2 separate regions of the Homo sapiens genome follow, and region 2 is linked to region 1. Evidence: fine-mapped expression QTL. Tissue or cell type: monocytes after LPS. Region 1 holds a variant in brackets; the other region holds the start of a gene. All regions are shown on one strand. Distances are from middle to middle. Region 1 has its middle 35 kb from the start of CDC42EP3. Region 2 holds the start of CDC42EP3 (CDC42 effector protein 3).

Region 1 (4,387 bases):
GCTCCATTAGCAGCATGAGAACAGACTAATACAGCTAACCCACTTTACCCTTAGCAGCATAGATTCAATTCCACCTTCTTTGTGGAATTGAATTCCTAATTCATATTAGGGTGTTGGGCAGAGTGAGTATTTGACTTTCATTTATTCATTGGATTTTACATCCAGGTTGTGCCACTAGCACAAACAGTTCATGGAGGGCCTTGTATACCTGTTTAGGAATTTGGGCTTTGTATGGTAAAGGAGAGTTTCTGAAGGTTGTTAATTAGGGACTTTATGGGTTTAGATGTTCAGTTAGAGAAGCTTAAAATATTTTTTAAAATATAGTATCTAAAAAATATTTTTAGAGCCCATCACTCAAAATTAAAAAGGAAAAACATTGGCAGGGGTCATTCTAAAGACAGTGAAATAGTTAGGAAGCTGTTGCTATATAATAGAAGCAAGGTATGATGAGGGCCTGAATGGAGTCAGTGGCAGTGGGATTGGAGAAAAGAGATTGGACATGAGAAATATTTAGGAGGCAAAAGAAGAGGGTTGTGTGGAAAAAGGAGTCACTTCCCGGGTTTTGTCCTGAGAAGCTGGCTGGATGGTATTGTCACTCACAAGCACAGGAGAAGGAGGATGGAAGCATATTTTTGTTGGTGGTGAACTTGATTTGAAATATGGTAAATTTGGGGTTCTGGCAGGCCAAACAAGCAGAGATGTCCAGGGCTCATCTGGATATTCAGGTCTGAAGCCCAGGAGTTGTATTTGGGCAGGAGATAGAGATGTGGGAGTCATCAGAAAATAGATGGCAGTTGAAGCTCTGAAACAAGACATCACCAAACAGAAGAATGAGAATGACCCTAGGGTGCGTGGTAGCAATGGGGTCAGTAGTCGAAGAAGAACCGGGAAGGATTCACAGTGGTGTAGTTGGTGGGAGAGAAGGAAAACCAGAGAGAAGGGAGTGAGAGGAGCAGCAGTGCCCTGGAGAGTCAAGTGCTGCAGAGAAGAGAAGAAAGGGAGGTAGGGTGGGGAACATCTGTGACTTTAGGAAGGTGGTTCATTGGTGACTGCTGAGCGCAGCTTCAGTGAACGGTGGCAGTAGATCTGGAGGAAAGTGACTCAGTGAATGTGAGGTGAGCAAATGGAGACATTGGTGTAAATGCCCCTTTCGAGGTTGTGGAAGTGGCTCACGTTTTTGAGGCAGGGCTGTGTTTGTTTTTCAGAGGTAGGGACTCGAGCATATTCTCTGCAGAAGCCCCCAGTCAGTGAGACTGGTAAAGACTGTTGTCATGTAGTCAGAGGCAGAGTCTCAGTTCTACTCCTTCTCTTATCTCTGTCACACTGAACACTTCTGCTCTTTCTTAAATCACCAGTTGGCTCCTGGGGCTCCCAGGCCTTTCTGGGTTTGCTCTGGGTTTATTCACCTCTTGTGTCAGTCTGTTCTCATACTGCTATGAAGCAATACCCGAGACTGGGTAATTTATAAAGGAAAGAGGTTGAATTGACTCATAGTTCTGCAGGACTGGGGTTGCCTCAGGAAACTTATGGTCATGGCAGAAGCGGAAGCAAACATGTCCTTCACGTGGCAGCAGGAGAGAGAAGTGCAAAGGGGGAAAACCCCTTATATAAAAACATCAGATCTTGTGAGAACTCACTATCATGAGAACAACATGAGGGTAACTGCCCCCATGATTCAATTATCTCCTGCTGGGTCCCTCCCATGACACGTGGGGATTACGGGAACTACAATTCAAGATGAGATTTGGCTGGGGATGTAGCCAAACCACATCACCCCTGTTAGAGGTGGAGGATTTGCTGTGCCCCACTCACTGCCACCCCCACTGCCACCAGGGCAGTCATGTCTCACATGGTGCGACATTTGGTATCCCCACTCCTTCACCCACTTGTGCCTTCAGAGAGGACTCGGAGCCCTCAGGAGAGCTACAGGGTAGTCCCGTAAATAGCCAGGGGCCAGTGAGATGATGTACTCTGAGGAGAGGCTTCCCACAATACAAACCTTAGGTGTCAAATGTGCTATGAGGACACTGAGGCATTGTACCCTCAGCACCTGTGGCAGGTAGGTGGGGCCCAGGCCAGCCACAACAGCCCTTTCATTTCCCCATGGTGCTGTCCCAATGTCATAATTTTCTTTGTCATGATATGGGAAGCACTGCCTGATGGGGCCCCACCTCCAGCACATTGGCTGTCTCTCTGTCACTTGGCTTCCTGAATGGTATTTAAACGCCCCCCGCATCACTGTTGGGTCTCAGCAAACTCTCTGGCCTCTTGTTCAATTTGCCCTCTGCATACTGGGAAGGCCTATTTAACTTTGCCTGGCATCTGTGTGGAAGAAACACTTCTTAGGCAAAGAGCTCCTGGAAGACAATCTCCCTAGCAACAATGAAGCATCCTCTCTACAGTCTTTTCTGCCTCTCTTTTGTTGTTATCTGGATGACAGGGATTGAATCTGGCCTCTGCCCATATCAAATGCTGTCTGGGGCTGGAAACAAGCCTCAAAACATGTTTTAAATATTTTATTTCCCCCCGTCTCCCCTAAGTCTGCCCACCATGCATACGCTTGATTAAAGTTATGCCCCAGTGATCAACTGTGAGTGACAGTGACCCTCCTAAAGGTAGTCTACTTAGCCTCTGGGCTCAGGCAACACACCTGTGTCTGATTAGACACTGTTACCCTGCTTGAACCTGTGCCACATGAAAGCAGCTTTCTCTTGTGCTCTGGTAGTGGGAGATGCTTTCTTGTAATGTTAATGCAG[G/T]GCTAGACTTTTCTCCTGCTGATCCTTTGCCTGGAATGTTCTCCTCTTCCTTGTCACCAGCCAGAGCACCACTAAATCAGTGTAAACTCCTTAAGGGAAGACTAAAGTCCTGGGAAGTGGGGTCATCCTGGCCTTATCTCCTTAAAGAACCTAACTCTTCAAGGGGGTCTTCCCTGTTAACCCTCTGTATTAGTTGGCTAGGGCTGCAGTTGCCAGTACCATGAACTGCGTGACTTAAACAACAGAAACTAATTGTCTCACAGTTTTGGAGATCAAGATCAAGGTGCCAGCAGGTTTGGTTTCTCCTGAGACCTCTTTCTTTGGCTTGCAGATGGCCACCTTCTTGTTGTGTCCTCCCATGGCCTTTCATCTGTGTGTGTGCATCCCTAATGTCTCTTCCCCTTTTTATAAGGACGTGAGTCCTATCCAATTAGGGTCCCACCCTTATGAGCTCATTCAGCCTTAATTACTTCTTCAAAGGCTTTAGCTCCAAATATAGTCACACTGAGGGTTAGGGCTTCAACATATGAATTTTAAGGGAACACAGTTCAGTCCACCTCATTATCCTTAACGTTTTCCATTTTTCTGTATTCTCTCCAGTGCTTGGGTATTGCATCAGTTTCCTATAATTGCTTTAGCAAATTACTAAAAACTTGGTGGCTATAAACAACAGAAATTTATTGTCTCACAGTTCTAGAGGCCAGAAGTCTGAAATCGGTGTCACTGGGCCGAAATCAAGCTGTCAGCAAGGCTGTACTCCCTCCAGAGGCTCTAGGGGGAAATCTGTCCCTTGCCTTTTTCACTTTTTGGTGGCTGGCAGCATTCCTTGATTTCTGGATGCATCAATCCATCCTCTGTGGTCACATTGTCTACTCCTCTTCTGGTCAAATTTCCCTTTGCCTCTCTCTTATAGGGACAATCGTGATTGCATTTAGGGTCCACCCAGATAATCCAGACTAATGCCCCATCTCAAGATCCTTAACTTAATCATATCTGTAAGGCCCCTTTTACCAAATAAGGTGACATTTATAAGTTCCAGACATTAGAATCTCCTATCTTGGGGGCCATTATTCCACCAGCCACAGGAGTATTGTTCATAATATATCATTTGATGTTTAAACAAATGATGTATCATTTGATGTTTAACAGCTGACCTACAAAAAGAGCCCTTGTTGCAAGGGCAGGAGACACAAAGATGTTTTTGCTGGGTGTGTTCAGACAAGATCACACCCTTCATACCATAATCTAGAGCCTTGGCTCTGTCCTCCCACATGACCTTCGCCTGAGGGGAGGGGCTGGGGACTAGGGAGCCAAGGAGTCTCCCTGGGGAGGTGAGGTTTCAGATGATCCAGGGGTTGGAAGAAGTTTCTCCCATGCATTTTTATCTCATGGCTGGTTAAGAGGGGTGGGCATCCCACTCCCGGAAGCCATTTCACTTTGAATACTTTGTTTACTTCTGGTTAGAAGAGTCTTCAGGAGTGTGGGCTCTGGTAAGAAGGTCCCATTTTCCCTGGACTTATACAACCAGGTCTGCTTCTTGTGTTTTGCTATCGTGACACTTTTACAATTTTTCCTCTCAGTTACCTAAGGTACCTGATGAATAGTCAACATGTTTGTGAAGTCCAGAGTGC
Region 2 (4,387 bases), 35 kb after region 1:
AGGAAAATTCTTGGTCTTCTATGGCTTGGTGAGGCACACAAGATTTTGTGGCTGGCTGAATCCAGTATTTTCAAATGGCTATCCTTGTTCTCTGGCAAACATACTGCATTTAAAAATAGATTTCTCATTCAATCAATGAAAAGAAATACAGGTTCACAGGATTCTGGTTAGTAAGAAATGAGACTGGGCCTAGATAAAATCTGACTGAAAGCAAGAATCTGAATAACAATAATAATAATAATAATACGATCAGAGCAGTCTTCTTGGAGGTTTTTAGGTTACGAATTATATTCCACCCACTGGATAAATGTTACAGTTAATGGTCAAAGAATTTGTGAAAAATCTATGGCCTGGCTAAAAAAAAAAAAAAAAAAAAATCTTTGGGTGATACAGGTGAAAGCAATTTTATCCCCAACACTGTTGAATACCAGGAACTTTATACATGAAAAAAGCACAGCTTTTGTGAGCATGTTGGACATAAAACAAAACACCACATTAAAGGAAAGGCTGGAGCGCAGACAGGGCAAATGAACTCATGTGAGCCCTTCTGCAATCACTGTTACGGCTTTGTATTTATTCATCTTGCACCGCACTTAAATGTGCAATAAAAAGCAAAAAGTGTGCAACACTTATTACTCTAGCTGCTTTTACTTGTTCCATAGAGATACGTGAAACAATTTCACTGCTCAGATTGAGGGAAAGAGGAGCTCATCTCATTTCAAGCCTGTAGCTGCTGCCACAGCCTCAGCACCATGTTCTAATCATAGAATTCATCATGTAAATCTCTAGCAGATGATGCCATTGGAAAACAGAAACTGCCATGGATCCAGAAATGCTTCCAAATTTCTCCTCTAAAGTTCTTATCTGTGAGCCCAGAGGCTGGTGCTGTTTTATTCAAATGGGTGAGGCCCATTGGGAAACCCGCATTCTTTGGGAGACTTTATGAAGAATTTCAACCATTCCTTGACTATAGAAAGGGCCTTTATCATTTATTTCACATATGAAAATGCTAAATATTTCACAACTACTCCAACTTATTTCTGAGTGTCTAAATCTATTCTGAAAAGGGTATGCATCACACACATACCTGTGTAGCTTATTAACTACCAATAAGAGCTCACACAAATTGCAGGGGGTATGAAAGAGTAGACTTCTGGAACTGTCCAGAAAAGAAGAGAAGGTACATTTCCTGGTTTTAAGATGAAAGAGCTTGTGTAAATTAGAACATTACAGGAGCCTTTTAAATTGTCTTAGGGATACCTTTGGGGCATCATCGCTGGTTCCTGGTGAGTCTTTTTTCTCCCTGTGATGTTAACAGGAAGTCCCTAAAACTGGCTTTGCTATTAAAATACAGACATCTGCTGCTCTCCTAATTTTTGTTCCTTTTAAAAGGCAGTACTCCCAAGAAACTCTTGGATATTGTGAGAATTAAGAGCTGGGAGATGGGGATGGAATCTTTGTCTCCCTAACACATTCATCAGTTCCCTCCCTAGAGCCCCCCTACAACCTCAGCACACAGCAGCAGCCCACTCCTCCAAATACGCCAGGGCTGGAAAGATTCATGTTGCAATACCCTCCTGACATTCCTCATTTTAATTCGCTCACTTTTTTTTTTTTTTTTTTTAAACAAAATGTAATTACTTGACTGTCAGCCTAGGCTGCACTCTGGGGCTTTTACTCCTTTCAACACAGCTGCGCTCCCGGCTTTGATGCTGCTGTCCACGCAGCTTGTCCCAGCCACAGCCTGGCTCTCAGTAATGTAACATTCAAGTGCATATTTATTTTTAAACTGACCTCTCCTAGACTGCACAGTATAAAGGAGATCCTGCCCAAAAATATGCTACTTTCTATTTATAAGATGAAACACATGCCTCCCAAAGTCGAGAGAGGGATAGAGTATAATAATTCATAACGAAAAAATGGCCAGATCCATTCATCCTCACATGTCTGATACTTGTCTGTGTCAAGCCACTTAGTTTCAAGGAGAAAGGGAAGAAAACAAAAAACAAAAAACCTTGTAAACGTCTCAGCTGTTCACCGTCAAAAAACAAAAAAGTCAATATCCAGATCTGCAGGTTGGCGCCCCACTAACAATGTCCTCCATTAAGAAAGAGGAGGGCACCGGGCAGGCGATGCCACGGCAGAGCTGTGCGATGCACCCATGTGCGGCCCTGGTACCAATCCATGATGCGAGGGGCGCGGTAGCCAAGCGCGGCTTGTTCTCAGATGGAAAAATGCTATACGCGCCCAGAATGGCTCTGCCAATAGCTCGGAGGGTGCAATGTGGCCGCGCAGCCCCACCCTGAAAAGTAGTGGGCACAAATGGTGGAGCTCTGAGTCCTGGTCGTGCCGCCGGACCCCCTCCTGGCTTGCTTTATGTCCCCTTCGTTCCGTTGGACACTAGATGGGAAAGCGATGCCCTGGGTATCCCGACTCCCTGCTGGTTTCCCAGCCTAACACCAGCGCACGCCGGAAGCGGCCACGGCCGCGGGCGGGACAGACTCACAGACAGGTAGAGAGGAAGGAGCCCTGGGCTGCCCCGACTCACCGGCCGCCGCTGAGGATCCCAGCCGCTGCCCCGGGCCTCCCGCGGGCGCACGCAATCCCTGCCGCTGTGCGCAGATCCAGCCGAGTCTGCCGGCGTGGTGCCTGCTCACCGCATTATCCGCTCCGAGACGGCGTGAAGGCGCCCCAGGCCGGTGGCCGGGTCTCCGGGCTAGCCCCGCGCTGCGGTCCCCCGGCCGCGAGAGAAGGTGCGCGCGACTGAGCGCGGGGCGGCCGGACGCGAGGACTGAACCTGCGGAGGGCGGGGCGGCGCGGGGCGGGGCCGGCGGCGCGGGGACTCACTGGGGCGGGGCGGAGGGCGCGGGCAGCGGGGCCGACCCTCCCAGCCGCGGTACCTGTGCCCTGGCCCGGGGCCAACCGGTGGCCGGGCGCGCGCGCGGGGGGGGGTCACCGTTGGACCCTCGGAGGACAATGGGCGCCCATTGTTACCTCCCCAGCGCCACCCCCCAGTAGGCGACTTCTCTCGGAGAAGATGCCGCTTTCGACTCCCTAAGCACAAAGAAAGGTCGCCGGACGCTCGGTTTAAAGAGGGACCCGGAGGTGCTGCCGCCCGGGTGCACGGGGACAATAGGACTCCGCCCGCACCCCGGACTCCCGCACTAAAACTCGTGCGCCCACCTCTCCCGATCCCAACAGGCCGACCTAGCTGTGCGAGTGGCGGGCGGTGACCCGCAGGGAAGCGAGGCCACCTGAGTGCGCCGCCCCGGCCAGGCCGCAGCTCCCCAGGTCCCTCTCAGCCCGGGCTCCGGTGGGCGCGGAGGGGGAGGGTCGCGTTCTGTCAGTTTCTAGCTCGCTCCCCTCAGAGCTGCAGCCAAAACCCGGAGAGTGGAATAAGCGCCCTGAAGATGCCGGAGCTCCCGGCTGAGCAACTGGACACGCGACGAACAGCAGACGCTACAGGTTCTCCTACCCAGAGGGAGGCGTTTCTTCTCCCTCAGGGTCTTTCAAAAGGATTTGCCTAAAGCTGGGGCAAGCCGGTGGCGGCTGCCCCAGACGCGCGACGAGGCGCAAGTGGCGCAGCTGCCGGCCCGAGAGAGTAAAATTCAGGCCGCGGTGGCACCTGCGCCCGCCGGTCACCCGGCCACCGCCAGCGCCGCCGCCCGGCGCGCCCCTCCCCTCCGCCGGGGCCGGAGCGTGAACCGGGTTAATGAATGCTAATTTTCTTAATCGGCCTCCGTCTCTTCCTCCTCCGCGAGTCGTCGGCCTGGGGAAGGAGTAGGCGACAGGAAAGGGCGGTGTTTTCCGGCTGGGAGGTCCCAGCCCGCATGGTCAGCCAGGGGAGGGGGCTGGGACCCCTGGGAGTCGGACGCTGGGGGCCTGGCCTCTGCCCTGAGACTCTCGGGTTGGATGGAAATCCTGGCACAACGCGGAGAACCTCCCGGATACCTTGGCTTTGCCGAGAGATATCAGCTTCAGGTCATCACCGCGGTGCCCTGGGTCTGTCTGAAACCTTAGAGGGTGCGCCTTAAGCCGATGTTGTAAACCCAGGCTGACTTTAAGGTGAAGTGAAAAGGAAACGCACACAATCTGGAAAGCAAAATACTTGGGTGGGGTGTTAAAAGCCTCAAAGAAAAATAGTAGTTGGCAGGTCAAATGGCCATGAGGTTGGAAGTCAAATACGAAACTCGGCTGAAGTGATGTTAGAAGTTTGACAAGCAAAAACAGTCCGTGAAGATAAGAGACCCAGCATTGTTTCCCTTCTTCAAAAGACAACTCGTCCAAAGTTTCCTTTGGCAGATACCTGGATTCTACTCCAGATTCCTGAGCATTTTACTTGGGTTTCATATTTCAAAATATATGTTCCATTTGGCACTAATGTATA

The links. PIP is the estimated chance that this variant, and not a neighbour inherited with it, causes the effect.
Region 2: CDC42EP3 starts here. The variant in region 1 is fine-mapped to the expression of CDC42EP3 in monocytes after LPS (Quach 2016, PIP 0.95).

The regions. Positions count from the first base shown.
Region 1 is chr2:37,634,170-37,638,556 of GRCh38, forward strand. No RefSeq gene overlaps it. Among named protein-coding and RNA genes, the nearest start is that of CDC42EP3, 35 kb to the right of the region's middle. RefSeq lists an enhancer at 1,495-1,724. The variant G/T (reference allele first, on the strand shown) is at 2,757.
Region 2 is chr2:37,668,878-37,673,264 of GRCh38, forward strand. It overlaps CDC42EP3 (CDC42 effector protein 3), which reads right to left and starts at 2,765. Exons shown (of 2, transcript NM_006449.5): 1 at 2,549-2,765. RefSeq lists silencers at 2,554-3,043, 3,214-3,273, 3,284-3,353, 3,574-3,743.